2 separate regions of the Homo sapiens genome follow, and region 2 is linked to region 1. Evidence: fine-mapped expression QTL. A gene starts in region 1. The other region holds a variant in brackets. All regions are shown on one strand. Distances are between the middles of the regions.

Region 1 (15,809 bases):
ATGAAAGGTATAAACCCCACAGAATCTGATAAGTTGGAAAGGGATACTTAAAACAATGCAGTTTTCCATTTCTCAATAATCTTTTGGTCCATTTCAAAGTCTTTTAGACTTTCCCCCATATGCTACTATAGGCCTGCTCTTATACTATAGGCCTTGCTATGAGATGGTAATGAAATTTCTCCATAGGCTTATAGCAAAATTATCTGAAAAACTTTAACACTTGGCTTCTAACATTGGCTGCTGATTTAGGGGAGTTAAGCAGGAGTCTTGAAAGTAGGTACTTTCACTGAATTGGCATGTTTGTTATGGCATCCCATCCTTAACTAGACAAAGAACTACCTACCCTCTCCAGGGAATCAATCCTGAGTCTTTTGCACCAGGCAGTCATTTGGGAGCTGGGGAAGAAATCCAGTGGTCTAATGCTTCTGAAATAGACTTTGAACCAACTGTCCAATTTCAGCCCCCACTTTATCCCTGCTTCTGGGGGTACCTGGTGCTGCCAATTCTTGAACCTTTGGTGGTTCTCTGGGGCAAATCTGGCTTGCTTTTGGCTATCCCCTTTGATAGATGGCAAGTCTGCTAATTCAGCTCACACTATCCTCCTGCTTTCCAGCTTCCAAAATGTTAATAATTTGATCTCCTCTACTGTTCTCTGAGAGACGGATTATATAAACAGACAGTAGCCAGACCATATATGACAATAGAACTCTGACCCACAACCTCTGCAATTGGCCAGCCTGGGCAGGGCTTGGTCAATGAGTCAGCTTCCCTATATTTTGCCCCTATTTTCAACACAGGACCAACCAGAGAAAGCCAAACCATTACACAAGAAGCCCAGCCTCTAGTTAGCCCACCTGCAGTTTCCCCATGACAATGATCTCCAGTCAGAGCATACCGAAGCCTTCCCCTTTTTTCACTACAGCATAAAGTGTTTCCACTCCCTGCCTGCCTTCAAGTCTCACCAAAGTATAGTGGTATGGTGGCGGACTCCCAACGACAGCAGCCTCTGCATAAATATCCTCTCTTCTTATCTGAGTGGTTTTCATCATTTTCCTTATCTTTTTGATTTTGAAGTTTTATGTTAAAGCACTTTTTTTAAACCATTGTTCTAGAGGGATTTTAGAAGGAGGTGGGTTGTCTGTGGTTCAATCTATCAGCTTTAACTGGAGATCTCTTTCTGTGTTCTTTCCTCTGTGACTAGATGTCAGCTGTCCATCCTCTACCCTCCACCTCCAGCAGGCCCAGAAGTCACCTTTGTATTTTCCTCTTGCAAACCTGGATGCAAAATCCAATATGTATTCAAATTCCTCCAAAGAATCCGCTGGATCAAAAGGATTAGAGAATGACATAGACTTTGCTGAACCTTACCTGTGGAAGATAGAAGATGAAGTTAGGTAACATTCACAAACCCCGTAGCAACTTAAATTCAACTCCCCAAACATCTTAAACATTTCTTTCTCCCCTAAAGTCTCTCCTCTGTAGATATCTTCTTTGCAATAATTTTGGAGCCTTGCTGATTCCCTTCTCAATCTTTGATTGACTCACTGAGCTTTCTAATTCCTTATCCTTTTACCCTACAAAGCAATTCAGCTCGGCACCTCATTTTGCCCCAAACACACCACTTATTGCAGAAACAAAGTTCTCTAAACCACCAAAAACCCTTCTCATTTGCTAACAAACATTCTTTCTTGTGTTTCCAAGTAGCTCCAGAGCTTCTTGAGTGCACAGACAATAGCTATATATTTTATAGTCTGTATAGTACCTAATAATATTACCCAAATTTATAGAGGAAAGGAATCAGTGGGTAGAAAGCATGGATAGAATATCATCAGAAGGGCCGGGCGCGGTGGCTCATGCTTGTAATCCAGCACTTTGGGAGGCCAAAGCGGGTGGATCATGAGGTCAGGAGATCGAGACCATCCTGGCTAACGTGGTGAAATCCCGTCTCTACTAAAAATACAAAAAATTAGCCGGGCGTGGTGGCGGGCGCCTGTAGTCCCAGCTACTCGGGAGGCTGAGGCAGGAGAATGGCGTGAACCCGGGAGGCGGAGCTTGCAGTGAGCCGAGATCGCGCCACTGCACTCCAGCCTGGGTGACAGAGCAAGACTCCATCTCAAAAAAAGATTAAAAAAAATGAATATCATCGGAAGGGGCCAGGCACACTGGCTCACACCTGTAATCCCAGCACTTTAGAAGGCTGAGGTGGGAGGATTGCTTGAGGCTAGGAGTTTGAGACTAGCCTTGGCTGCACAGCAAGACCTTGTCTCTACTAAAAATTAAAAAATTAGTTGAGTGTGGTGGTGCACTCCTGCAGTCCCAGCTACTTGAGAGGCTGAGCGGGGAGGATTGCTTCAGCCCAGAAGTTTGAGGTTGCAGTGAACTAGGATCATGCCACTATACTTCATCCAGCCTGGGCAACAGAGCAAGACCCTGTTTCTTAAAAAAAAAAAAATCAATGGAAGGAAAGATTTTTCAGAAATAGTCTATCAGGCAGCGATTCCTCTAAATTTTGACCTCCATCATTATCTTCTACCTTTTTTGTGTATCTTCAGTGCTGGGCATTGTATTAAATAGGTTTTAGTTGACTGGTGTGGCATGCATTTATCATTAATATCTTTTGTTTTCCATATCAGTTAGGGATTGGATTCTACCACTAGTAACATTGACTGCAGTAGCTTAAGAAAATTAGAGGTTTATTTTCCCATGTAAAAGAAGTACAGGCTGAGTGTGGTGCCTCACACCTGTAATCCCAGCACTTTGGGAGGCCGAGGCAGGTGGATCACGAGGTCAGGAGTTCGAGACCAGCCTGGCCAATATGGTGAAACCCCGTCTCTACTAAAAATATAAAAAATTAGCCAGGTGGAGTGGCATGCACCTGTAGTCCTAGCTACTCAGGAGGGTGAGGCAGGAGAACCACTTGAACCTGGGAGGCAGAGGTTGCAGTGAGCCGATATCGTGCTACTGCACTCCAGCCTGGGCAACAGAATGAGACTCCATCTCAAAAAAAAAAAAAAGTTCAAAGTTCAGAGGTAGGTTGCTCAGGGTTAGTATGGAAACTACAGAAGGCATCAGGGATCCAGGCTACATCTACCTCTCCACTCCGTCTTCCTAAGCACCTGGATTTCATTTTAAATTGCCACTGTGATGGCAGAGAACTGTTGGAGATTCAGCTATCAGGTCTTAGTATAAGCAAGGAAGAAGGGGAAGGGCAATGACAAAAGGCAAAAGAGGCCTTGTGGGAGTTGTCTCTCCCCTCATTATTTATGAGACAGAATCTCTGTCTACCAGGCTAGAGTGCAGTGGCCCAGTCATGGCTCACTGGCAGCCTTGCCCTCCCTGGCTCAAGCAATCCTTCCACCTTGGCCTTCCAAGTAACTGGGACTACAGGCACAAACTACCATGCCCAGCTAATTTTTTACTCTTTTGTAGAAACGGGGTATCCCTATGTTGCCCAGCCTGGTCTTGAACTCCTGGGCTCAAGTGATCCTCCTGTCTTGGCCTCTCAAAGTGCTGGGATTACAGGTGTGGGCCATCACACCCAGCTCTGTCCTCTTCATCCCCTTTTTCTTTTCTTTCTTTCTTTTTTTTTTTTTTTTTGAGACAGAGTCTCTCGCTCTGTCACTCAGGCTGGAGTGCAGTAGTGCAATCTCAGCTCACTGCAACCTCTGCCTCCCAGGTTCAAGTGATTCTCATGCTCCAGCTTCCCAAGTAGCTTGGATTACAGGTATGTGCCACCACATCCAGCTAATTTTTGAATTTTTAGTAGAGATGGGGTTTCACCATGTTGGTGGTCTTGAACTCCTGACCTCAAGTGATCCGCCCGCCTTGGACTTTCAAAGTGCTGGGATTACAGGAATAAGCCACCGCGCCCAGCCTGTCACCTTTTTAGAAACATTACCAAAAGTCCCATGCAAAAACTTTTGCTTATAACTAATTAGCCAGAACTTAGTCACATGGCCACACCTACTCCTAATGAAGACAGAAAATTGTATTTTGTAAATGCAATTGTTTAATGCCCCCTAAGTGGAAAGGGAGAATGCATACTAGGTGGGCAACCAGCACTTCCGGCCACAGTTCCTCGTGAATTTTCTGCACATGATGTCCCATGAATCCCTAGCCCAGTGCTTGACATTAAGTTGTCCTTGGAATGAATAAACAAATGAATAAAGTATTTTAGATAGTTCACACAATAACCTTTTTTAAAAAAAATTAATTGACTTTATTTCTAGAGCAGTTTTAGGTTTACAGAAAATTTGAACAGAATGTGCAGAGAGCTCCCACATACCTCCCCTCACCACATGCAGTTGCAGTTTCATCTATTATTGACATCTTGCACGGGTATTGTACATTTGCTACAAAATTATATTGATACCTTATTAGCCAAAGTTTATAGTTTACATTAGAGTTCACTCATCATGTTGCACAGTTCCACACGTTTTGACAAATGCCTAATGTCATGTATCCACCATTACTGTATCACACAGAATAGTTTCACTGGCCTAAAAATCCCCTTGCTCCAGCTATTCCGCCTTTCCTCCTCCCCTGGAATCCCTGGCAACCATTGATCTTTTTACTATCTCTACAGCTTTGCCTTTTCCAAAATGTCATACTGTTGGAACCATACGGTATGTAGCCATGGCAGACTGACCTCTTTCACTTAGCAATATACATTTAAGGTTTCTCCATGTTATTTTTTGCAGCTTGATAACTTCTTTCTTTTTAGTTCTGAATAATATTCCATTGTAAGGATGTACCAGTTTGGTTATTCTTTCACCTACTGAAAGACATCTTGGTTGTTTCCAGCTTATAAATAAACCTGCTGTCAACATTCATGTGCAAGTTTATGTGTGGTCCTAAGTTTTCAACTCATTTTGGTAAATACCCAAGGGTGTGGCTGCTGGATTGCATGCTGAGACTATCTTTACCTTTATAGGAAACTGCCAAACTGTCTTCAGAAGTGGCTATACCATTTTGCATTCCCAACAGCAATGAATGAGAGTTCCTGTTGCTCCACATCCTTAGCAGAATTTGGTGTTGGCAGTGTTTTGGATTTTAGCCATTGTTTAACCTCCGCCCCCAAGACTCAAGCGATCCTCCCACAACTGCCTCCCGAGTAGCTGGGACCACAGGTGTGTGCCACCACACCCAGCTAATTTTCGTATTTTGGGTAGAGGTGGAGTTTTGCCATGTTGCCCAGAGTGGTCTCAAACTCCTAGGCTCAAGTGATCCACATGCCTAAGTCTCTCAAAGTGCTGGGATTACAGACGTAATTTCCAAGTACACGGAGTTTTAAAAATAATCCTTTCTTTCCCTTCCTTCCTTCCTTCCTTCCTCCCTTCCTTCCTTCCTTCTTCCCTCTCTCCCTCTTTCTTTCTCTCTCTTTCGTTCTCTCTCTCTCTCTTTTTTTTTTTTTTGATGGAGCCTCGCTCTGTTGCCCATGCTGGAATGCATTGGCACGATCTCGGCTTACTGCAACCTCCGTTTCCCCAGTTCAAGCAGTTCTCCTGCCTCAGTCTCCCAAGTAGCTGGGTTTACAGGCATCGGCCACTGTGCCTGGCTAATTTTTGTATTTTTAGTAGAGACAGGGTTTCACCGTGTTGGCCAGGCTGGTCTTGAACTCCTGACCTCAGGTGATCCTCCTGCCTCAGCCTCCCAAACTGCTGGGATTACAGGCATGAGCCACCGCACCCAGCTTCATGATTGATTTCTAACTTAATTGCAATGTAGTCAGAGAATGTGATCTGTATGATAGCAATTTTTTGCAATTTGTAAAAAGTTGCTCAATAGCCTACATTTTTAAAAATTATTTGATTTTAAAAACAGCAACCAGTTAGATAATCAATGGCCTAAATCAAAATTAATTTTCTTAAATCTTCCCTGTAAATGTGAAAAGTATATTTGAGAACAATTTGTGTTTTCACATCGTTGAGGACATAGTTCTTTTCTTTGTCTTCCTCAGGAATGGAGGGTTCTTTACATAGTTCTATACATGCTCCTTAGAAAAGGTTAATTAATTATGTCAGACATTCCCATAATGACTGGTGATTCTTGGATGTCTTCTCATATTTAAAAGTGAGAAACTGTATTTTAAAAGCTGATTAGAAATTCTGTATGCACAGATGAGTCTTGTTGACTGGGCCTTAATGTAGAGTGATTGCTTGTGAACCCAGACAGTTCTTTATGAAATCCTCCAAATGTCAATATTCTGCTATTCTTTTTGTTTTTAATTATTAATTTTTGTGGGCACACAGTAGATGTACATATTTATGGGGTACATGAGATATTTTGATACAAGCATACAATGTATCTGCCATTCTAATCTAATTTCTATCTTTTAAAATTGTATCTTTTTTTTTAGTTTGGTACTATGTCCTTTCCTGTTCTTTCTTCTTTGGGTTAACAAACTTTTCACTCCTTTACTATCATTTTTAAAAACCCTTTTATCGAAGTATATATGAAACCAGAAAAGTGCTCACAAATATAACCTGAACACACATGTAAAGCCGCACTCAGATTAAGAAATAGAACATTATCAGCACTTCGTGAACCTCCTCATGTTCCCTTCCAGTTATTACTACCCTAAGATTAATCATTATATACAGTGACTTCTAATAGCAGGGATATTTGGGTAGTTTCCCGTTTGGGGCTGTTGAAAGTATGGGTATGAGCTTTTTTTTGTACATGTCCTTTTGGTGAATACATGCAGACATTTCAGTTGCATATATATAACTAGGAGTAAAATTGTTTTTTGTTGTTTTTGTTTTCGAGACAGGGTCTAGCTCTGTCACCTATGCTGGACTGCAGTGGTGTGATCACAACTCACTGCAGCCTCAAACTCCAGGGATCAAGACGTCCTCCTGCCTAAGCTTCTGGAGTAGCTGGGACTACAGGTGCACACCATGATGCCCAGCACTTTGGGAGGCCGAGGTGGGAGGATCGCTTGAGGCCAGGAGTTCAAGACCAGCCTGGGCAACACAGTGAAAATCCCTAAAGTGCTGGGATGACACGTTGAGCCACTGTGCCCCAGCTAGGGGTGAAATTGTTGGAACAAAGTCTTTTCACATATTCAGATTCAGTTGATACCGCCAAACAGTTAAACAAAGTGATTGCATCAATTTATGTTCCCTTCAGGAGCATATGAGAGTTGTGGTTGCTCCACAATCTTGCCAATACTTGACATTTTCTTTTTCATTTAGCTATATCTCATTGTGGTTTTAATTTGCATTTCCTCTTTATCCTTTGTTTTTTAAGTGTTTCAAGATGGAGCAGATAAAAATTCAGGGAGTTAATCCTCTATAATAGCTGGAAATTTCCCCCATGGGTACTCATTCAATGGAATTTAAAACATTTGCCCCTGTATTGAAGGCAATATAGTATAAAGGATGGGGCCACATGCTCTGCAATCAGAAATATGAGGTTTGATTCCTAACTCCGGTGCTTACTTGCTGAATTACCTTGAGGAAGTTATTTAACCTTTTTCTATTTTATGTAAAACGGCACTAATAATAGTACTGCCTCACAGGGTTGTTATGGGGATTAAAGGAGAAAAAATAAGTAAAATGCTTTGCAAAGTTCCTAGCAACAGGTGAGCACAAAGTCAACAAATGGTAGCTATTATTATACCTTATATTGGTTATTTATGCACATCTCATTTCTCCTTCTGTTTTACACATTCCATGAGAAAGGAAAAGCATGCATGTAGCACAGATTAACTGCCTCACATATAATTGCTAATAAAGACTGATTGGATGAACGATTTAATATATAAACAAAAAGTATTGTGGTTATCGCTATAAAAGATGGCATAGGTTGGGCATTCACGCCTGTAATCCCAGCACTTTGGGAGGCCGAGTTGTGAGGTTCGCTTGAGCCCAGGAGTTCGAGACCAGCCTAGGCAATGTAGGGAGACAGTATCTACAAAAAAAAAAAAAAAAAAAAAAAAGGAGGGTACATAAAATTATTATAGTGGCTATAGGATAATGTGCACTGCTAATGAAGACTACATTATTTAAATACAGTGTCTTTCCTTCTATTTACTGTTATCGTTTAGCAGAAAAACAGTACGCAGGATACTAAAGAAGGAAAATTCGATGTCCCATATTACATTTGTGAGAGTTCTGGAGGTTTCTCCCTTCAAAGCCAAAACCAAAACACAAACATACCATCCCAGTAACAAATGCGTCACTTTTCTGAAGAAGACGTTAAGCCCTTCCAATTTTAACAGATCCTTTGTTCAACAGAGGAGAGAGACTGGGTAGGCATCACCTGCCCCAGTAGCTTCCGTACAAAATGGCGTTGCCCGTTCCCACACGCCAGCTGGGATTACGTCCTCCAGGCCTGTCGCAGGAACGGAAGTGGTTACGGCCCTAGTGAATCCGGGTGGGTGCGCGCAGGCGGCCGCACAGGTTCCAGGTCTTTAACGTGAGCCCGCTGCAGGTGTGCGGCCCAGTCCGAGACAGCAGGTAAGTGAGGCTCAGAAGCCGGCGAAGCCTTGCACCAGGATTGTGCGCGGGGCAGGGGGTGCTTCCAGTGCAGACTAAGAGGGGTCGTGGAGCGGGGGGATATTACCGTGTACGGGGGTGACATTGCGGGGCCCCCGCTGTCCCGGAGCGAGTTGGCCCTGCCCCTCTCCCCGCCCCTCGGCGTGACCCCCTCGCCCCCGTCGCACACGGCGGGGCGGTTCAGCACCCAGGTGCGCAAGGAGGGCCTCACCCCTGCCCGCGGCCTCCCACGCCCTCCTTGGGCCTCTCCTTTCGACCCCCTTACCCTCTCCCTGGGAGACTCTACCAGACCTTCGAGGCTGCGTGTCCCAGTCAGCTAAAAAGGAGGCCCCGCCCGCGGCACCTGGTAGCTCCTCGGGCGCTGCGGGTTCGACGCGGCAACAGCTGCTGTTTTCTCTCCTGGATTCGTGTGAGCCGCCACCCTCGCTACCATCCCTGTCCTCCCAGACCACACCCTGCTCTGGGCCTTGCCGGGAGCCACCTCTTTGGCTTTTCACATCCCTGGGATGGATCAAAACTAAGAACCTTAATCATTATTTATTACAAAATTGACATCTGCTCCTTAAAATACAAACAAACCAATCCCCCGATAAGCTTTTGATATGATTCCAACATTCAAACTCCTTTATATACCCTCTCCTCAAAAACACAAAATTGAAATTATACTTTATTTTCTTAGTTCTGTTCCAAGGATAGAAGGAATTGAAAGGTTTTGTTAATCATAGGAATTAGGAAGTGCGGGTTGGGGCGCAGCGGGGAAGATGGATTAAATTTGGTCAAGTTGAGCTTGTTTTAAAAATGTATTTTTAAAATATTCTAGTTATAGTCCGTGCATAAAGCCTTGTAACAAAATTATGTAAAAATTTTAAACACAGATCTTTCTTAGCTTGATGTTCTTGGTGGTGAGGGTGGGGAGTGTGGAAGACAGATCCTCTTTGATTTTGTTTTTTTCCATCTCCACCTTCTTTACCAGTCCCTTTCCCACAAAATAAGAACTGTTGTCAGTTTGTGTGTATTTTTCTTTGCATTTATTTGACAAGTATGTGTACGTATAAGATATATGTTTGTAAGATTTCGCTTTAAACTTTTACAAATATGCATGTTTTATGCATTACACAACTTGACGTTTTATGCTTAAAAACGGGTCTTGGAATTTTTTCTTTGTCAGTACCTAGAGATCTACCTATTCTTTCTACTTGCTCTGTAAATTCCATGGTTATGTAAGATTCCATAGATTGTTTCCAGTTTTTCATTGTTAGACACAGTATGGCGGAGAACATCCTTCCCACACACCTCTGTGAGAGCCCATGTGAGAGCATTTCTCAAGGATGGGTACCTGCAGGTGGAATTGCTGGGTGGGAGAGTATGGGGATTTAGGAATGCCAAACTGCCACCCACGGTGGATAATAATTTCCTCCATTCTCTCTCTCTTTTTTTTTTTTTTTTGAGACAGAGTCTTGCTCTGTTGCCCAGGTTGGAGTGCAGTGGCGTGATCTCAGCTCACTGCAGCCTCTGCCTCCCAGGTTCAAGCGATTCTCCTGCCTCAGCCTCCCGAGTAGCTGGTATTACAGGCACCCGCTACCACGCCTGGCTAATTTTTGTATTTTTAGTAGAGACGGGGTTTCACCGTATTTGCCAGGCTGGTCTCAAACTCCTAAACTCGAGTGATCCGCCTGCCTTGGCCTCCCGAAGTGATGGGATTACAGGCGTGAGCCACCGTGTCTGGCCCACCATGCTCTTTTGATCATTTAATGGTATCGATCTTTTTTGTTTTTGCCAATCTGATGGATGGAAAAGTGATTTCTCTTTGCTGTTTTAATTTGCATTCCCCTGATTACTATTGAGATTGAACATCTTCATGATTGTCAGCCATTTGTATTTCCTCTTTTGAGAAACATCTCTTTCTATTGGATTGTCTTTTCCTTATTGATTTATAATAGTATTTTATATGTTCTGGATTTTGATCTTTTGTTATTCATATGTGTTTATAATATTTACTCCCTGCTTATTGCTTTTTTAAGTTGTTGCTTGTCTTTTAACTATATGGCATCTTTGTTGAAACAAAGTTTAAAATTTTAGGTTTTAATTTATCAGTCTGTTATGTGTGTGTTTGTATTTTGTGGCTATCATTCCCAATCCGAGTGGTTCTTAAATGGCAGAGATTTTTGCTCTCGGGGTTATTTGGCAATGTCTGTAAACATTTTTTGTTTGTTCCACTAGGATGGTGCTGCTATTGGTTATCTAGTGAGTAAAAGCGAGGGTGCTGCTAAACATCCTACAGCGCACGGGAAAGCTTCCCACAACAAAGAATTTCACCAGCCAAAAATGTCAGTTGTGCTGAAGTTGAAAAATCCTTCTCTACTTTTAGAGAGAGGAGGGTTTTCTCCTAAAGCTCTGTTTTCTCCTTGAAGTTCTTCTTGTGGGAATAGTTTTTTTTCTTTAATTCCTCTGGAATTGTGTGTGTGTGATTGTTGTTTTCCAAATACTGTCACCTCGAACAGTCAGTCCATTCTTTTTTTTTTTTTTGAGTCAGAGTCTCGCTGTGTCGCCCAGGCTGGAGTGCAGTGGCGCGATCTCAGCTCACTGCAACCTCTGCCTCCCGAGTTCATGCCATTCTCCTGCCTCAGCCTCCCAAGTAGCTGGGACTACAGGCGCCCACCACCTCGCTTGGCTAATTTTTTGTATTTTTAGTAGAGATGGGGTTTCACCGTGTTTGCTAGGATGGTCTCGATCTCCTGACCTCGTGATCCACCTGCCTCGGCCTCCCAAAGTGCTGGGATTACAGGTGTGAGCCACCGCGCCCGGCCTAGTCAGTCCATTCTTGAACCATTAATCCGAAATGCCACACTTACCATGTACTAATTTCTTTTTTTTCTTTTTAATTTTTATTTGTAGAGATAGAGATGAGTTTTTGCTATGTTGTTCAGGCTGGTCTCAAACTCCTGGCCTCAGGAGATTCTCCCCCATCAGCCTCCCAAAGTTCTGGAATTATGGACATGAGCCACCTCGCCTGGCCTCATGTGCTCATTTATCATACAGGATCTGTTTCTAGACTGTCTTCTGTTCTATGGCATACTTTTCTATTTTGCTGGACCAATACCACAACATCCTATATTAAACTATATGTTATATGTTGACATTAATAGGGTAAATACTCCATCATGATTATTATTTTATTGGAAGTCATATACTATATCAGCTCATGTACTCTCATTTAAAAAACAATATTTTTGGTTATTATTAGTTTCTTTTCCAGATTAATTTTACAGTCAACTTGTCAATTATTTTTTTCTTTTAAGAGATGGGAGCCGGGCGCGGTGGCTTACGCCTGTAATCCCAGCACTTTGGGTGGTTGAGACGGGCGGATCACCAGGTCAAGAGTTTGAGACCAGCCTGACCAACATGGTGAAACCCAGTCTCTACTAAAAATACAAAAATTAGCCGGGCGTGATGGTGTGCGCCTGTAATCCCAGCTACTCAGGAGGCTGAGGCAGGAAAATCACTTGAACCCAGAAGGCAGAGGTTGCAGTGAGCTGAAATTGCACCACTGCACTCCAGCCTGAGTAACAGAGCGAGACTCTGTCTCAAAAAAAAAAAAAAAAGAGAGATGAGGTCTCACTCTGTCACTCAGCTGGAGTGCAGTGGCAGCCTTGACCTCCTGGGCTCGAGTGATCCTCCTGCCTCAGCCCCCCAAGTAGCTGGGACTACAGGTGTGTACCACCACACTGGCTAATTTTTGTATTGTTTATAGAGATGAAGTTTCACCATGCTGCGCAGGCTGGTCTTGAACTCCTGGGTTCAAGTGACTCACCCGCCTTGGCCTTCCAAAATGCTGGGATTACAGGTGTGAACCACCACACGCAGCTCCAAATCATTTTTTAATGGCTTTATTGAGAAGTAATTCACACACCATACAATTCTTCAAAGTGTACAATTTAATGATTTTAGTATATTCATAGAGTCGTGCAAACATCACCGTAGTCTAATTTTAGAACATTTTTATCACCCCAAAAAGAAACCCATACCAATTAGAAGTCAGTCCCTATCCCTGACTCCCCTGAGACCCCAGCCCTAGGCAACCACTAATATTTCTGTCTTTCGAGATCTGGGTGTTTTGTGTAAAAGGAATCATACAATGTGTAGTCTTTTGTGACTGACTGCTTTAACTTAGGATAATGTACTGAAGATTCTTCCATGCTATAGCATGTTTCAGTACTTCATTCTTTTTATTACTGAATGAAATTTCATCCTGTGGTATATTTATTTTGTAGGGCTGTGGTCAAAGTAACACAAACTGCTGACTTAAAACAACAGAGGTTTATTCTCTCGCAGTTAAGGAAGCTAGAAGTTCAAAATTAAGGTGTCAGCAGGGTTGTGCTCTTCCTGAAGGCTCTAGGGGAGAATCCTACCTTGCCTCTTCTAGTTCCTGGTGGTTGTTGGCAATCCATGGCATTTCTTGGTTTGCAGTTGCACAACTTCAGTTTCTGCCTCCGTCTTCAAATGGTCACCTTCCCTGTGTGTCTGTCTGCACATTGGATTCGCTCAGCGTAAGCCTGTTTCTTCTCCTCCTCCTGTAAGGACACAAGTCATAGTTGATTAAGGGCGCACCCTACTTCAGTATGACCTCATGTTAACTTGATTACATCTGCGAAGACCCTATTTTCAAATAAGGTCACATTCACAGGTCCTGGGGGTTAGACCTTCAACATATCTTTTTGGGGAATACGATTCAACTCATAACATACGGATATGCTACATTTTATTTATCTGTTCATCAACTAATTGACATTTGAGTTGTTTCCACTTTTGGGCTATTATGAATAGCTATGAACTTTAGTACGGACATGTGTTTTCATTTCCCTTGGGTATATACCTGCCAGTGGCATTGCTAGGTTATATAACTGCCAGACTGTGTTCCAGAGCAGCTGTACCATTTGACATTCCCACCAACAATGCATGAGATTTCTAATTTCTCCACATTATTGCCAGCACTTTTTTTTTTTTTTTTTGAGAGACAGGGTCTTACTCTGTTGACCAGGCTGGAGTGCAGTGGAGTGATCAAAGCTTACTGCAGCCTCAAACTCCTGAACTCAAGCAATCCTCCTGCCTCAGCCTCCCAAGTAGCTAAGTCTATAGGCACACTACCACTCCTGGCCAATTAATTTTTTTTTTTTTTGAGGCAGGGTCTCACTATGTTGCCCAGGCTAGTCTCAAATTCCTGGCGTCAAGTGATCCTCCCACCTTGGATCAGAGTGCTGGAATTACAGGTGTGCACCACCATACTTGGCCTTATTTGTTTTTTTGAATAGAACCATCCTACTTGGTGTAAAGTGGTATCTGATTGTGGTTTGGATTTGCATTTCCCTAACAGCTCATGATATTGAACATCTTTTCAAGTGCTTATTGGCCATTTGTATACCCTCTATCAGGAAATGTCTATTCAGTTAGCTGGACTTGTCTGTTCAGTTAGCACACTTGTAGTCAAGAGGCTGAGGCAGAAGGATCACTTGAGCCCAGGAGTTTGAGGCTGTCGTGAGCTGTGATTGCATCACTGCACTGCAGCCTGGGCAACAGAGCCAGATCTCGTCTCTAAAAAATATATTAAAAAATAAAGAACAGAAATACCTATTCAGATTCTTAGCCAGTTTTTAAATTGGTCTGTCTTTTTATTATTTGGTGGTAAGAGATTTTTGTGTATTCTAGATACACACCCTTCCCAAATATATGATTTGTAAATATTTTTTCCCATTCTGTGGGTTGTCTTTTCGCTGTCTCGATGGTTGATTCATTCTTTTTTTTTTATAATTTCAACTTTTATTTTAAATTCAGGGTGGTACATGTGCAGGTTTGTTACATGGGTAACATGTTATGCTGGAGTTTGGGGTATGGATGAGTCCTTCACTCAGGTATTGGGTATAGGTCGTTTTTCAGCCTGCGGCCCCCTTCCCTGTCTTCCCCTCCCCTCTGGTAGTCCCCAGTGTCTGTTGTTCCCGTCTTTATGTCCATGTGTACTGGGTGTTTAGCTGCACTTACAAGTGAGAACACGCAGTATTTGGTTTTCTGTTCCTGCATTAATTCACTCAGGTCGTGGCCTCCAGCTGATCCATGTTGCTGCATCCATTTTTCTCATCTGCACACAGTCAATTCATTCTTTTAAAAAGTTTTTTAAAATGAAGTTTGTATTGAATTTACATATTATTTTGAGTATTTCTATAAAACAATCTTTTCTTCTTATCAAAAATAGGATAATTATAGTACCTCCCACATAGGGTTATTGAAAGGATTAAATGAATACTTTAATATGAGTATATATGTACATGTAAAGTGCCTGGCACATGATTGGTCCTGTTTGACAGCTGCTATCATACATCTCCACTCTTCTGGTCTTCTTCTAGATCTTCACTAAAGTTTTCTGTTCCTCTTTGTATTGATCTGACACATTTCTTGTTGAATTCTTTCCTAGACTTGTGTATGTGATTATGTGGTTTTTTTATGTAGTTTTAAAATAGTATACAGGTATATTGCTATTATGAATGAGATTTCTTTTTTCACATTTTTATAATAGGTTTGGAAAGCTATTGATTTTATACTCATCAGACTTTCTGAATTACCATATAATTTCTAAAAGTTGGTTGATGACTTTGTTGTTTTTCCAGGTGGTTGTGATGCAGTCATTCTGTTCAGGAGCTGTGGTTCTTTTTCATTCTACATTCCTCTGCCATAATTCGAGTATTCTTTGCCTCTCCGCTCTGCTTTATGAGCTTCTAACAGGTCTCTCTGCCTACGGCCTTGCTCTCCTCCAGGCTAGCACCCACATTAGTACCATGGTGGTCTCATCCTGTCACTCTCCTTATAAGTCTGTTATTTGCTCTCCAGTGTCCTGTAGGATAATGATGGCCCCTCATGACTTGTCCTGTATCTACTCATTCCAGCATCATCTCTATTTCCTTACTTGCACATTATATTTTAGCACAGTAGTGTCCATTAGAAGTAGAATGTGAGCCCCAATTTAAAATTTTCTAGTAGCCACATTAAAGATATAAAAAGAAACAAGGTGAACTGTAGTAATGGCATCACTTAATGAGGATCTGTTCTGTGAAATGTGTCATTTTGTGAACACGATAGAGCACACTTACACGAACCTAGATGGAATAGCTGACTACACACCTAGGCTGTATGGTATAGCTTATTACTCCTAGGCTATAGACCTATATGGCATGTTATTGTACTGAGTCCTGTAGGCAGTTGTAACACAGTGGTAAGTATTTGTGTATCTAAACATACCTAAACATAAAAGTACAGTAAAAA
Region 2 (15,809 bases), 54 kb after region 1:
GTGGAATAGGTGATACTGCCTTTCTGTGATCTGTGTTGGGCGGTGGTGCCCAAGGCTTCTCAGTCATGGTTAGGCCCCAGTTAGAACCCCAGTAGCCTGTCTGCTGTCTTCCCATGTGCTCTGTCATACACTTATGAGCGCTGCTTTCCGGCTGGGCTTGTTCCAGGAAGAACGTGATTCCACATGAGTACCGGAAGCACTTCCCCATCGAGATGAAGGACCACAACTCCCACGATGTGCTGCTGCTCTGCACCTCCTGCCATGCCATTTCCAACTACTATGACAACCATCTGAAGCAGCAGCTGGCCAAGGAGTTCCAGGCCCCCATCGGCTCTGAGGAGGGCTTGCGCCTGCTGGAAGATCCTGAGCGCCGGCAGGTGCGTTCTGGGGCCAGGGCCCTGCTCAACGCGGAGAGCCTGCCTACTCAGCGAAAGGAGGAGCTGCTGCAAGCACTCAGAGAGTTTTATAACACAGACGTGGTCACAGAGGAGATGCTTCAAGAGGCTGCCAGCCTGGAGACCAGGTACAAAGCACAGGAATTGTGGAATGTACCAGGGACATTAACCCTCATTACTTAGTGAGAATGCTTGCCAGGGAGGGGGCATTGGCTGCTTAGGCACAGTGCCTAGCCTCATGCTTCACCTAGTAGGTGTCTAGTAGTTTAAGATACCTTGGAAGTGGAATAGAACAATCTACTTGAGGAGTTCCTTTCCATAGGAAACTTGCTTTTGTGAGGTGCCTATCTTTGACCTTTTTAAAGATCATACACTTAATTTCGGTCATTTTTGTGATTAGCGTGCGAGTGCAGTTGTGGTGGAGCTGCATCTTACACATTCTATGCAGACGTAAATCCTCATGCCAGCACATGAGATGAAATAATAGTCCAATAACACCCTCGAAGTTCTGAAGTTCCCCATGAGATACAGTACATTCACCCCTCAGTATCCATGGGGGATTGGTTCCAGGACCTCCCTTGGATACTAAAATCCACCAATGCTTAAGTGCCTGATATACAATGGCATAGTATTTGCATATATCCTGCACACATCCTCCTGTATACTTTAAATAACCTGTAAATTACTTATAATACCTAATACAATGCAAATGCTATGTAAGTAGCTTTTATATTTTATTGTTTATGAAGTAATGAGAAAAAAGTTTGTACATGTTTGGTACAGATAGTACAGATAGTTTTTTTTTTTTTTTTTCCAAATAGTTTTGTGGTTTTTTTGTTTTGTTTTTTTGAGATAGTATATGGCTCTGTCACCCAGGCTGGAGTGCAGTGGCACTATCTTGGCTCACTGTAACTTCCACCTCCCAGGCTCAAGTGATCCTCTCACCTCAGCCTCCCAAGTAGCTGGGACTACAAGCATGCACCACCACACCCAGCTAATCTTTGTATTTTTTGTAGAGATGGGGTTTCACCAGGCTGCCCAGGCTGGTCTCAGATTCCTGACCTCAAGCAATCCACCTGCCTTGGAAGAACTGGGATTACAGGCATGAACCACTGTGCCTGGCCCCAAATCATTTTGATCTGAGGTTTGAATCCACAGATGCAGAACCCACAAAGATGGAGGGCCAATTCTATGTGTGGTTTTGTGTCTCCGACTTTATACAGGTCTGTGAGAACTGTGACTAATGAATTCATGGTTCCTATCTCACCTGCACTCCAGGGTATCGGCTCACTGAATGGAATGTTGAGCAGAATTGCTGTTACTATGTAAATTACTTTTCTCTTTTTTCCTTCCTTGCTTTCTCCCTCCTTCTCCATGAGTACATAGTTGAATTCTTGTGACACAATGCAGTATTCTGAAATGAGAAATGAATGGGCACGTGGCTCAGATGGTAAGAGCTCTGGGCTACCATGCGCAGTTCTGCCTCCCAACTGTCACTTTTTCCAACAGGACCAGGAGTTGAAATAAGGGAACTGATAAGTTCACAAAACCTTGAGCGTGATGCTGGTTTTTGTTAACTGAAAAATAAAAAAGTAACTCCAATTATAAGCAAATATTTAATTTTTTTAGAAAACAAAAATTTTTTTACTCTTATCCATTACTACTGATCCATTACAGATACTGCAAATATTTATTGAACAGTTATTTATAGATATACTATATCTTGCAGCAAACCAGCTAATAAACTTCACATAAATTGCCTTAATTGTTTCTCATGACAACCCGACAAAGTAGGATTTAGATTTCTTACTGGTTAACTGCTACTATATCTTAAATTTAAAAAATCTTTCAGGGTTTTAAAAGAATTATAGAATTTTATCCCCATAACTATTTTGTGAGGTTGTAGAATAGATGTTGTTTTGTAAGTAGCTGGGATTACAAGTGTGTGCCACCACACACGGCTAATTTTTGTATTTTTAGTAGAGGCAGGGTTTCACCTCGTTGGTCAGGCTGGTCTCGAACTCCTGACCTCAAGTGATCCTCCTGCTTTGGCCTCCCAAAGTGCTGGGATTACAGGCATGAGCCACCACGCCCAGCTGCCAATATGTTTTCTAAAGCAGCTAAACCTCCCCTTTCGGCCACAGACTTTTCTAACAAATTCATCTTGCTGAATTGGGTAGATGAATGCTGGACTTGTGACTGAGAAGAACAGTTGTTTGGAGACAGGCAAGTTAGTGGGAAGCGCATGAGCTAAATATTAATAATAAAGTGTCTGCAGATACCCAGAGACGCCAACACTGCTGGGGTGGCGGGTGTCTTGGGAGGGAGGATTGAACATGGGGTATGGATGTAGGGAGAGGAGAGTGTGTGTGGGCAGGGTGCTTCCTTGAGGAAGGTCATCTTTATTCACAGGAGGTGAAAGCACCATTCACACAGCATCGGAGCAGTTTTTTAAGGACTCTGCTTAGTTAGGAAGGAGGGAGGCATTCATCTTCTCATTTAATGGCACCATTTGCACAACTGAGCAACCATGGAAGCATTTCACTGTGACCGAAACACTTCTCACCACTGTGGCTTGGCATCTTTTTGTGAGAAAAAAGGCTCTAAAGAAATATGCTACCTTGCATTTGACATTCAGTTATTAAATTGTGTTGTGAAAAAGTGTAACATGCGGGCCGATTTAACAGCCTCATATAAATACTGTGTCCCAGAATGAACAACTTAAAAGAGGGGTGAACTGGTCACTGGGTAATCCTGGAAGAAATGGAAGACCAGCATTCTTCATCCATTATCAGCTGGATGGTAGTGCCCCTCTCGTGGGAGCTGAACATTATGAAGTGGCCTTCCTGTCAGTAGAGCTCAGAACCCTCAAATACCTTCTGTTGGGATTGCGAGTCGTATGTTCAGACTATAAAAAGGGCAGAGATAAGAAAGAGGATGTTTCGAAAACACCAAAGTAACTAACCCTTTAGGAGTCCTTCAACCTCCCCAGTTACCCTTGGCGCGCAGCATTTGAAGCTGTCTGTGAGGCCATCCTGCGCTTGTTTCCCTCAGACACTTTGTTTTTCATGTTTTGGCAGAATCTCCAATGAAAACTATGTTCCTCACGGGCTGAAGGTGGTGCAGTGTCACAGCCAGGGTGGCCTGCGCTCCCTCATGCAGCTGGAGAGCCGCTGGCGTCAGCACTTCCTGGACTCCATGCAGCCCAAGCACCTGCCCCAGCAGTGGTCAGTGGACCACAACCATCAGAAGCTGCTCCGGAAATTCGGGGAAGATCTTCCCATCCAGCTGTCTTGATAGCTGCTTTCCTCCCAGTTAGGACAAGTGGGAAGCTGGAGCCAAGGTTGAAGAGTCACCTCTTCCCATTTTAGTACATCATTAATTGTCAAAGCCTGTGTGACACAACTCAGAATACTAACCTAGACTAATCCCAGGATGCTTCTGCTGGAGCAAAGATATTGTTTGAAGGAGAGTTTATGGTTTTGGATTTTAAACGGGCAGGGTCTTTTTTCCTCTCATTTTTGTGGACAAGAGAGGCCTTCGCCTTTATTTTTACTCTCCCTCTTCTGCTGTCCCTGTGCAGAGGAAAAATGAAGAATTCTCCCAGAAGTGACTTGTCAAGACTTAAAAAAAATGTTTTTAATGCATTTCTTCCTTGTCTAGTGCCTCGGTTTATCTCTAACAGGGGCTGTCCAGTATATCGGTCCTGTTAGGAGGGGAGAAAAAGTTCTTCCAAAGGCTGGAGAAGTGAACAAGGAGTCAAATTTATTTTCCCAATTCAACTTCATAATTATCATTTCTTTGGCTTCATGCTCTCCCGTAACTCATGTGGTTGGGATCCATCCCATCTGGGTCACTTCAGTCTACTTCACGTACTTGAAAAGGCTTTCCTTTACACTTCCAGGACCAAACAGCAACTTCCTGCCACACACTTCCACCCTATCACTGGGAGAAATCCTTTTCTGGACATGAGCCTTTGACCTGGGTGGGGCAGAAAGAACCACAAACTCCATCTCCCAATAGAACTTTGAAATTCACTCAGCTTTTCCTTTCATGCTGTTTGTTGCCTGCTTGTTGCACTCCTCCTGCCCCAGAACTGCAAGATTTTTAGCTTCACCCCTTTCTGAGAGTAATGTTATCTTTTATCAGAATCAGTATCAGTTCCCCTGTATTCTGTGCTTCATCGAATTTGCAAGACTGACCTCTTTTAAGCATTTAATTCACTCCCAGAGTCATCTGGTCAGGTTGCAATATGAGGACTTCTCTGTCTCCTCTGAAGCCTGGGACACTGAGCTTACTTAATACATTAGATGTTCAAAAGAGGAGCGTTGTTTCATCTTTCAAAATGTTAGGCCATTACTTTGAGTATAAAATCGACTTATTAATGATTAGTAATTTTTCTAAAGTATTGGGAAAACTTTCTTATTTTATAAGATCTTAACAAGCTTAAAAAAGAATTTTATGACCAGAATCCAACAAGAGCTCTATTTTGGAATTGTGCCCAAGTTGGTGATGTTTACTCTAAAATTAATAATAAAACTACTTGTAAGCACAAGGCTCACTGGATGTAAATGTAAAACTTCGCGACTTTATAAAACTGGCATTCCTAGGGGAGGGGCTATTTATCCTACAGGTCCCTGCCTCCTGGCAGTGCCATGGTATGTGTGCATGGATATACCAGACACAGTCACCATCGGCCATCAGTAGCAGCCCATGAACCCACGTGCACATCCTGCATCTTGCTCTTCTGACCCTTCATTCCCACTTGTCTTCAGGCAGGCATTTCTGGGATCTAAACTAGAAATCCTTGAAAACAAATAGTACCAGCCACTTTGAGGAATGTGCATTCACTGTAGTGGGTTATTATGGGGTCTCTGCCTCCTGGCTGTGTTATGCGGAGCCCAGGAGTGGAGGAGAGCCGTGGAAATAGACAGGGAGAGGCTGGTACTTGGGTTGTGGTAATAGTCAGGCTTGCCACAAGAGGGCACTCATAGATTTGTTTTTATATTCATTCTTGAGAAAAAAGCAACTGGTTACTGAACGTAACTCATGACTTATGTTTCAAATTTTGCATAGCTGATTTTAAGTCATTTTGATAGCTTTGCAAGAAAAATTTTTCCTTTGAAACAAGGGAGTAGGGCTGTTTCATTTTCTTTCCTTCTAATCCTCATGCCAAGAGGTGAGAAACACTTAAGGTCATTTAAGGTGCTAGGGAAAGGGTTTTCCCATGGAGCTTTCTGTGAGGCGCAGTAAAATAGAGCCAGCAGCAAAGTAGAGGAAAAAGCCAGACTGCGTCACACAAGATTTCTCATCCTTTTCAGGAGAGAGTCACTGTGTAGATTTGAATCTTTTTTCTTTGAGTCTGCTTTGAACTTTAGCAGGCTTTTCCTAAGACTGACAATTGTCGTCTTAAATCAGAGATTTGAGGGTAGACTTATTTTATGGCAAATGTCTATTTTTCTGATATAAAAGTAACAATGCTCATTACAGAAGAATCTAAACAAAGAATAAAAATTAGCCATCTTCTCTCCATCTAAAACAGAGCTAAACTTTGCTGATATGTTTATGAATTTCCTTTCAGTATTAAAAAGTGCATATAAGGTGTATATTTACACAAAATTGAAGGTCATACATAGATACAGGTTGGTATCCTAACTTTACCCTCTCACTGATTAACATGGTATCACGAGTAACTTCCTATGTTTTTAAATCTTTGAAAATAGATTTCTAGTGGTTCTACCTTATCCATCCCCACACTGTTGAAAATTTTGGTTGTTTCAGATACTTTTATTATCAATGATGATGTGATAAAGTTTCTTGTATATATCTCTTTGGCTCTATCTTTGGTAATTTCTTAAGAATGGAATCTTAGAATTGGACTGTGAAGAGGGGGATTCACATTGCTGGGGCTAAGTACAAATTGACATCACCTTTTAGGAATGAAATGCTTCTCTTTGACCCTTTAGCTCCAGTGTCCCAGCATAGTCACTGGGCTTCATAGGAGTAGCAGTGAGAGGACAGTGTCACAGCAAGGGCCTCTCTGCATGCTCCCTGATCATTGTGTTTGCAGGTTCAGCATTTCTTCTTGAGTCCTTCCCTTCTTCCAACCTTATTGCCTCATTTCCCCCTTGTAGTCAATGTTTTTTGGAAACACTGTTTATTTTAAAATAAAAATGTAAAAAAAAGGTAAAAAAATAAAATTTTAAATTTTAAAATATAGGCTGTAGGCAGATGTTTTTTCCCTGCTACACAAACAATTAGTGATTTGCCATCCC[A/C]AAGTGAATGAGGCACAATATTCAGGGATTTGTTACGGCTTACGCTTAAGAGCACAGCCATAAGTTACTTATTCTTATCCATGTCACGGATAGAGATCAGATGACAAAATGTGTTCTGTTGAAATAAAGCCATTTTAATCATGCATTTTAGACTCTTAAGAATCCAGCAGGCAGAAAGAGGTTTTGTTCACCTTCCTATTCGCCTATTAGTTTGGGGCCCTAACATTTGACTGTAAGTTAAGTTCTTAGTTTACCCTGCCTCTCAATTTTTCATTCATTTATTTATCCTTTCTTCCTTTTTTTCCCCTTCCTTATGTCTCAGCCTTATAAGAAGTATCATTTTTTCTTTTAAAGGAGATATTTTCTCAGTTTGCTAGTTTACTAATTATTATGTATTTTAAATGGATCTTTCTTTCTGGTCTTTTATGTTTCCTATTATAAGATGGTTATTTTTTGAGAGTACCTAATCCCCTTAGGGATACACTGAGAATCAGTTTCTGTTGGAAGAGATAAACTAAAAGAGGGTATAAGAATGATTCTTGTTTTGATTAACTGTTGATTGATATGAATAACATAAAAATAATACATAATCTCCCCAGTACTTTTTTTTTTTTTTTTTTTTTGACATGGTCTCACTCCAGACTGGAGTGCAGTGGTGCAGTCATGGCTCACTGCTGCTTCAACCTCCAGGGCTCAGGCAATCCTCCCATCTCAGCTTCCCAAGTAGCTGGGACTACAGCCTTGTGGCACCATGCCTGGCTAATTTTTTAATTTTTTTGTAGAGATAGAGTCATGCTTTGTTGCACAAGCTGGTCTCAAACTCCTGGCCTCAAGCCGTCCTCTCACCTTAGCTCCCAAAGTACTGGGATTACAGGTATGAGCCACTGTGCTCAGTCCCCCAAATACTTTTGTTTTGGAATTCAGGTATAATTTTCAGGCATTCACCAAGATACCCCTTGTGCAAGAGCCCAGCACCTTCTGCCTGTCCCAGTCCTGGAGTAGTTTTGCATCAGGCAATGGAGTAGGGATGACGTGCAGCCACACAGCCCATGTGTTCAAAAGTACCGATTCCACCAGCCTGCTAGGAGACGTATTAGTCACTCCCTTTGCTTGAGGAAGCAAGGCCTTGCTTAAATGCTAGCATGTTATTTAGAAAGGTGGGAAGTACATTAGACCATTTTTTTTTTAACCAGCTTTATCTGTGGCCAACTCTGGTTGAAGGCCCCTAGAAACTGGGTAACTGGACCAAATGGTTAATCATTTGAGAGATAATCAAGAACTGCCTTTGCAGAGGAACAGAGTTGTCAAAGGACCTAGTTCATGCATCCTGGGTTGTACCCCCTTCTGATGTGGTGCAGGCTGCCTCAAAGGTCATTTTGTGTTGTGACTGAATGGAGATAATGTCATACCCTCCAGACTGAACTCAAAGCATTTGCTTTTTGCTATTTGTTATTCTTGAATTTTTCTCTCTTGCTGGATGGGTAGCCTGTTGCCTTTCTCCCAGCATAAGCTTCAAAAGCTGCCGAGTTTACAGGCAGCATTATTATAAGCATGATGTTTGGGTTCAGAAAATTCCTGAGTTGAAATGGCTACTTAGAATCTGCTTCTGCTGCTGCTGCTTTTTTTTTTGTTTTTTTTTTTTTTTTGAGACAGAGTTTTGCTCATGTCATCCAGGCTGGAGTGCAGTGATGCAATCTTGGCTCCCTGCAAACTCTGCCTCCTGGATTTAAGCGAGTCTCCTGCTTCAGCCTCCCAAGTAGCTGGGGTTACAGGCGTGCACCACCGCACCTGGCTAATTCTTGTATTTTTAGTAGAGACGTGGTTTCACCATGTTGGTCAGGCTGGTCTCGAACTCCTGACCTTAGGTGATCCGCCCGCCTCAGCCTCCCAAAGTGCTGGGATTACAGGCGTGAGCCATCGCACCCGGCCCCTACTTCTGCTTCCTAAAGATCTCCCTTCTCAGGCTGCAGCACGCCAGGGCGGAGTTGAGATTCTGGCCACTCAGGCCACCAGGGTATCTATTAAGTCCTGGGTAAGAAACAGAATTTTGAGCTTAGTCAGCTACAGGGGGCTGAAAAGGAATGAGACTGAAACATGGATAATTTTAAAGGAGGTATGTTTGTTTAGTGGGGATGGGGTAGGCTGGGGGCTTGTTCATGAACTGAACTTTAAATTTTGCTCTTTCCTATACCTAGTTCTGTCATGTATTGGAGGATCAAAAAAAAGTGTGCTGGTGACTGAGGTTCTGGTTCCAGCCACCAGCTGTGTGCCTTTGGACAGATCACTTTTCTGGGCTCCTTTCTGTATCTATAGAGGTTTGAATTAGATGTGCTGTAAGGGCCCTCCTAGCTGTAGCATTCTGTAATCCACCCCACTGTTTCCTTATGTGGCCCTTTCCCTTGAGTACTGTGTACTTTCTGCTTTGTTGCACACTCTCGTCCCACCCCCAGCGCTGGGAATGGAGACTGCATGGAAAGAAGGGTAATGAGGGAAGCAGGATGCCACACCATGGCCTCATTGACTAGGGAGAAGCCTGCTCTCTCCATCTGGTGTCAGAATACCTGTCTCACCAGAGATGTCTGTGTGTGGGGAGCTCACATTTCCCTATCGCCCAGTCCACTGAATAATCAGAAAGAGAGAAGGGAAATCTGTATGTTTAACCACATTGCCAGTGCTCTAGGATTTAATAGGAGATAAGTGTAAAAGGGAAATGAGGCAAGTGTGCCAGGTGTTGTAGATGGGAGGATATTGAGTGGGGAAAGACTGTTTCTCATTTTAAGGATAAAGAAATTAAGATTTTATATATATATACACACACACACGTATATATACATATATACGTATATATGTGTGTATATATACATATGTATATATACACACATATATGTATGTATATATGTATGTAATGGAGAATTGAATTGGGTACTTTGAAAAAAAAACCTTAAACCAATAAGTAAAAATACTCTTTCTGTGTTTTGTGTGTGGGGTTGTAACAGCCCAAGAATATTGGAGGCGTCCACACTGTTAACGTGTTCTTACCCATCCATGAGTGCTAAGACATGAAGAACTCACAGGGAGACAGGGAAGCATCTCCGGAGCCTGTTTTGTATAACCCTGACATGCCTTGGACTTTGTCCTGCTTGCCTTTGCCTTTGCCTGGGCATCAGCTAGACAGACATGTGCAAAATGTAAAGTTTGCATTTTATAAGCTGCTGAAGACATTTCTTTCTATATCTCCATCCCCTATGACCTGACAGAAAATACAATTTCTAGTCCATCCTTGTGCTTAGTTTCAGTCCCAAAGTGGATTGGCTTTTCATTGTGTAACACAGATTTGTATCAAATGTGTTCATCTTGGAGCTCTTTCCACAATAATCACCTAGATCTAGACATGAGCCCCTGCTTTTACCAAATTGGGGTCCTTTTGTTGTTTGTTTCAGAAAAAGTAGGCAGCTAGCCAAACAGGAAGCTCAACTACATTTCTCTGCCCTCTCCTCGATGGACCCTAACTTTATCTAAAATTCTGAAATTTCTCCTTATATCCCATGGAATCAACTAAAGCCCTGTTGGCTGGCTTCGTTTCTTTTTAATCACGATATGTATGTTTGGCCCTGGAGGTTTGGTAAGCCTGAGCTGTTGCACATATGGCTGCCTCTGAGTTCTTGGACACAATGAGCAGGACTAAAGTTGGCTACAAAAAGGAACAGAAGATGACTTAGGTTAGTTTTTCTTTTTTAAATGTTATACAAGTGCAGAGCACTTGGCTGCCATCCCCCTCTCAGACCATCAACAGAACTTGACCTTGGCCAAGATTTTGCCTCATCCTCTCGGCATTTCAGCATAGAGTTGCGTTTCAGCCATGGAATGCTTAACCAAAAGCACATGCTGTAGTGGTGGTTTCCAAAGAGTAAGTTTTTGCAAAAAGTCCACATAATGTTTCCTCATAACAGCAGCTTTCTCTGAACCACCAACCCAACAAACCTCTAAGTGGTGATTTTTTGGCTTATTTGTCCACAAGGACTGTGATTTTTTGTTTTGTTTTTAGCAATACTTTATTAAAGTGCAGTATAAGTAACATATGATAAAGTGCACACATCTAAGAATACAACTCAATGAATTTTGACAAATGCATATATCCATATAACCACCAGGGGCTGGTGTTTTTAATATTTTGTGAAGCACCTATTCTAATGATGTACGTTTTGGGATTGGAAGGTTGTGCATTCTTCTAGCTGAGAAAATTACTATAAAACAGTAAATCCAGATCAAAATGTGATGAAGATCCACCTGCCACAGAGAAAGTATTAATAGAATATAAGGCTAGGGTGTAGGAGAAGTGGCCCAGGAAAGCCATCCATGCAAATTTTGTTTCCTTCCTACTTGAGAGGGTTGGGGATGAGAGGTCCGTCCTTCCCTGGCTCATAAGCCCATGAGTTGTGTAAAACACTGTTCAGTAAGGCAGAATATAAGTCCTCTTATATATTGAGTCCAGACAGTTTTCCCTTTTGTCACATCTAGTGGATTTGGTTATTGCAAAGCTTCATGTTTGTTTTTAGTAAGTTAATTTTTAAAAATAGGTAAAATGTGCACATAGTATAAAATTTTTAAAAAACATATAATGAAAATCGCTCCAGTCTTTCTGCCCTCCTTGAAGGCAACCAGTGTTACTATTAATTTGCATCCCTCAGAGAGATTGTATGTGTGTGTGGTTTTGTTTTGTGTTTTAATTCCCAGGTTTCTTATTTGGTCGCGAACCAATAATATTCTCCACCCCTTTGTTTCACACTTTAGGCTCTAGTTTAGGGCATTTATGCAGAAACGTTTTGGATACTGCAGCCTGAGTAGGACTACTTCTTTTTGTTCTGTACCACGAAGTTCATCCTCTATATCTGTCAGCTGGTTCAAAAGTTCATGTTTCTCACAGGATTGGCCATGGGTTGAGAATCACTGAAGCTGTGTGTTTATCATAGTGGGCCCCCTCTCTCTCTATATATATATATATATATATTTGAAATTTTCCATTAAAAATGTTCTTTAAAAACTCAGTCTTTTGTTTGTTTTAAAGTAATGCTTAGTTGCAACCTAAAAGCAAACCATAGATTAATCTCTAGACAGAACCCCCTGCCCCACCATCCAAGTCAGACATTCAGAGTTCCCAATTTGCAAATTGTGACCTAGGATGGTTATTCACCTTTACAAGCCATCCTTCTGTTTAAACATAGGATTGACTTCAAATTTATTTTGAAAAGCCAGCTTCTCTGGCAGGTAAAATTTGATTTATACACTAATTCTTTCAAGAATATGAATATCATGCACAACAGAGGGCTTATATTCTGCCTTCTTGAACAGTGTTTTACACAACTCATGGGCTTATGAGCCAGGGAAGGAAGGACCTCTCATCCCCAACCCTCTCAAGTAGGAAGGAAACAAAATTTGCATAGATGGCTTTCCTGGGCCACTTCTCATAGACCCTAGCCTCATATTTTATTAATACTTTCTCTGTGGCAGGTGGATAAGGAGTCAGGTCTTCTCCAAATTAGAACTTCCCAAAGATACACAGTCCAGAGAAAGGAGCGAGGCTGTTGGTGTTTTCCAATTCAAGTCCCGTATGGTTTCCCTAGGGCCATTTTACCCTTGATGCCCTTTCATGCTCGCTCCTTTGTCTTGCCATAGTCTAAACACCCAAGGCCTCTCAGTCATCATTAAGAATATTCCCACTGGTCAGGGAGTGCCCTTTGAGCGTGCCCTTAAGAGCAGCTGTCAGATTTGAGCAGCATCTGCTTTCTGACAAGCTTGAAAACAGGATGAAGGAAGCCATTGAGTATTTCCCAGTGGAAATGGTACCACAAGCTGCCTTTGGGACTGTGTTCAATATGCGAGGAGTTTAGTGGCCTGGCAGCTTAGGTGGGGGTGGGGGATGTAAGTGTGGGTCATTCAGGATGGAGCAGGGATCTTCCCCATCCTGAATGGTCTCAGCCATGTCATCCATGCAGGGTCCTGATGCTGGAATCCTTCCCTCTCCCTCAGCCTTCGGCTCCAGCCTTTTCTGGGCAGGGAAACAGAATGAGGCAAAATGCCTGGTGTGTTTTAAATAGATTCTTCTTGTGGCAGCCAATGAGTCCAACAGCTTGGAAGGTGAGTGACCCTTCCCGAGAGACTTATGTTGTGCCATTTCTCTTGTCCCTAGCCCCTGGAATACTGACCACCTCGACCCCTCCTGCTGTCCTCCCCTTCGACCTAAACTCCAGTGATGTTAGCCATCCTCCTGCTGCTCCCTAGATGGACTGTCTTCAGGCTTTTCTGGTTTTAGTATTTATTACACTTCCCACTTGGCTTTTTCTGTCCCCAAAGCTGATTTTCCTCGTGCTATTTGTCCACTCCACCCAGTGCACATCCCCATCTGCTGCTGCTTGTCTGACTGTCATGGCTTCCCGATGATCTTCTTGCCTCCACCTTCCCGTGGCCTGCTTGGGGACAGCCCAGCCCCACCTGGGCCTGTGTGCAGCTGGGGAGGCAGGAGAGGCTGCTCATTGCAGTGGCAAACACTGGGGCCTGCAATGTGAGGTCAGCAGTCAGTGCTCCAGCACAGCCAGGACACCCCAGATTGAGCATGGGCAGCGTGCAGAGCCATTTTCAAAAGAGTATCTTTTAGCAAAGAGAGTTAGGACTTCAGAAGACCAATGTGGCCTCTTCCCACCCTATCCACGGAGACCACTTACAAGACCTAAGCATCATGATCTCTGGATTCCCAGTAAGGGGTCATACAAAGGAAGGACATGAATATTTTTTACTTGCTAAGGGGAGATTGGCTGTGTTGATTCTGGAAAGATGTAGGGTATGGGGTATGTGAATGGACGGTAGAGGCTCCTACCTCGAACAATCTCGGTTGTGGGGCAAGTGAGAGCTCCAGACTAGGAAGCAGACCTCAGTGATGATGGCTATTCTTGGCAGTGTGGCAGTGCCATAAGTCGGTGAAACAGGTAATGGGGGGGATCAGAAATCTGAGGAGGGGCATAGAGAACATAGGACACACAAGTGATGGGCCAGCACCCATTAAAGGTTAGAATCAAAAGAGGAAGGTCAGGTGGAGGCTGGATGTCATGAGGGAAAGTTGATGAGGAGCAGGCACTGGGGAGACCAGGGCAGTGGGACCCTGCCAGAGACCCTGCAGCTCAGCTCTGCCACATGGAGGCAAGCAGTTTGGGGATAAGGCCAGGAACAAAGGGATCTGTGAGGACCCTGTCTCCTACTCATCTCTTGCCCTTTTATTATTTTTTATGAGCCTGTCCTCATGTTATATTAGTAGTAGAAAACAAACAAAGGCAGTCTGCATTTGAAAGGGGATGGCACAGCCTGGAGAATTTAAGGCTGGATGTACTTCCCCTTTTGCTGAATTCTTAGGCCTCTTTGCCCATCTGCTGCTGGAGCTATGGGGCCAGTCCCTTACTGGAGCACTCTGAATGGAATCCCTACACAGCTCGACAGCTCAGATGAGTGCCGGCGGCAGGGGTAGCCAGCAGCGGGTGTGCACCCACAGAACCCCTCCAGGCCCATGGGGCAGCCGGGGGAGCAAGGCTGTTGGCCAGCCTGGCTAGAGAGGGACCCTTAGGGAGGGTCTGGTCTGAAGGCAGCTTCCAGCGTGTGACTCCAGCTCAGTCACTGGGCTCCTCTTCCCCTAGGCACTGAGCTGCAGAGAGGCCTGAGGTAGAAGAAAGAGGAAGGAAAACTTTTTTCTTGCTGGAAAAGAATTTTAGGTAAAGAGGTAAAAAAAATTGAAAAGGCACAAAGGGTATACAATGAAGGTCTCTCTCCTACTCATGCTCCCCTCAAACTCCCCTCCTCAGAGGCATCCCCAGATGTACCAATTTCTTGTACATTCTTCCAATTTCTCCTTTTTTAGTCTGCTGTAATCCAGAAGTTTCCAGATTCTTGAACAAATGGACTATTTTCAGTTGTTGGGATGTGTGTGTGTGTGTGTGTGTGTGTGTGTGTATGTCTGTGTGTGTGTAAGATGTAGAGGGGGGGATCAAATGATAATAAAGAAAATTGTATCCTAGTTGATTGCCCATCATTCTTGCTGAGGCAGGGAATGGTTTAAAACATTAAAACAAGTAAATAGAATTCTAAAATGCTAGCACTTGAAAGGACCTTCCAAGTACTTTTTTCTTTCTTCTTTTCTTTTTTCTTTTCTCTTCTTTTCTTTTTCTTCCTTCCTTTTTTTCCCAAAGCCCTCCCCATAAACATGAGGAAGAGGCCCAGATAAGTGACTTTTCCAGGGTCACCATGCTAGCTGACAGCATATCAGCTACTGAAGTGGAAATTAAAGCAGTGTTCCTGGAATTGGTATGTATCTTGAAGCTGTCAGTATGGCTGAAGATATCCATCGATATATTCTGAAGTGTCATTTCTAAAACCCAGGTTTCCCATCTCCCAGTTGTCCCAGTTGCCCAAGAAAATACTGCGTGCTCCATCTTTAGGTAGTGGTCTTTGTAAAGATAAGTGATTCAGAGGTGGAAGGAAAGACAAGTGATCAGACATGGATTTAGAAATTTTCTCCGGTGGACACAAATAGGAGGAAAGAAATTAGTAATTCCAGGAAAAGCCTGAAGTCAAATTCCAATTGAAAACAGAGCCTGTGCACACATGCACCCGCCCACCCACCCATACACAAGTACTGGCAGAAGACAGAAGATGGCTGCCGGCAAAGTCTATTGTCTGTCTGTCCTGCTGGGCTCCGGGCTGAGATTCAGGGTCCAGGCAGAGGCTGTGAGAGGCAGCATAGCGCCATCCCTCTGCCAAAAAACTTGCAGCCCTCTGGCTTACTGTCACTGGGCAGGTATTTTCTTGTTGGGCAAAAGGGATAAATGTCAACTTAGACTGGACAACTAAGAAGACAAGCTGTGCGTGGGGAGGATGTGCCTGGCCATGCCACCATGGAGCTCTGCCACCACTGGCTCCATGAGCACTGATAGACAGCCCCAGCTGTTTCCTACCACCTACCAGGAGGAAACTCCATAAAATTTACACGCTGATAAAATGGCAGGATGATATTTTAAAATCCTCCCTGTTTTGGCATCAGCTCCAGACACTGTGAGCAATTTCAGTGTCCAAGCCAGACTGATGGGCCTTTTGATGGCTT

Evidence for each region.
Region 2: its variant is fine-mapped to the expression of EXD2 in blood mononuclear cells (TOPMed, PIP above 0.99).

What each region holds. Positions count from the first base shown.
Region 1 is chr14:69,183,130-69,198,938 of GRCh38, forward strand. EXD2 (exonuclease 3'-5' domain containing 2) reads left to right here and starts at 8,369. Exons shown (of 10, transcript NM_001193360.2): 1 at 8,369-8,462. GALNT16-AS1 (GALNT16 and EXD2 antisense RNA 1) reads right to left here. Exons shown (of 4, transcript NR_184249.1): 3 at 12,911-13,072; 4 at 1-1,368. RefSeq lists a silencer at 8,590-8,779.
Region 2 is chr14:69,237,409-69,253,217 of GRCh38, forward strand. It overlaps EXD2 (exonuclease 3'-5' domain containing 2), which reads left to right. Exons shown (of 10, transcript NM_001193360.2): 9 at 167-523; 10 at 3,476-6,610. The coding sequence ends at 3,692. All of the region lies in intron 2 of GALNT16-AS1 (GALNT16 and EXD2 antisense RNA 1), which reads right to left. Among named protein-coding and RNA genes, the nearest start is that of GALNT16, 15 kb to the right of the region's middle. RefSeq lists an enhancer at 1,314-1,938. The variant A/C (reference allele first, on the strand shown) is at 6,671.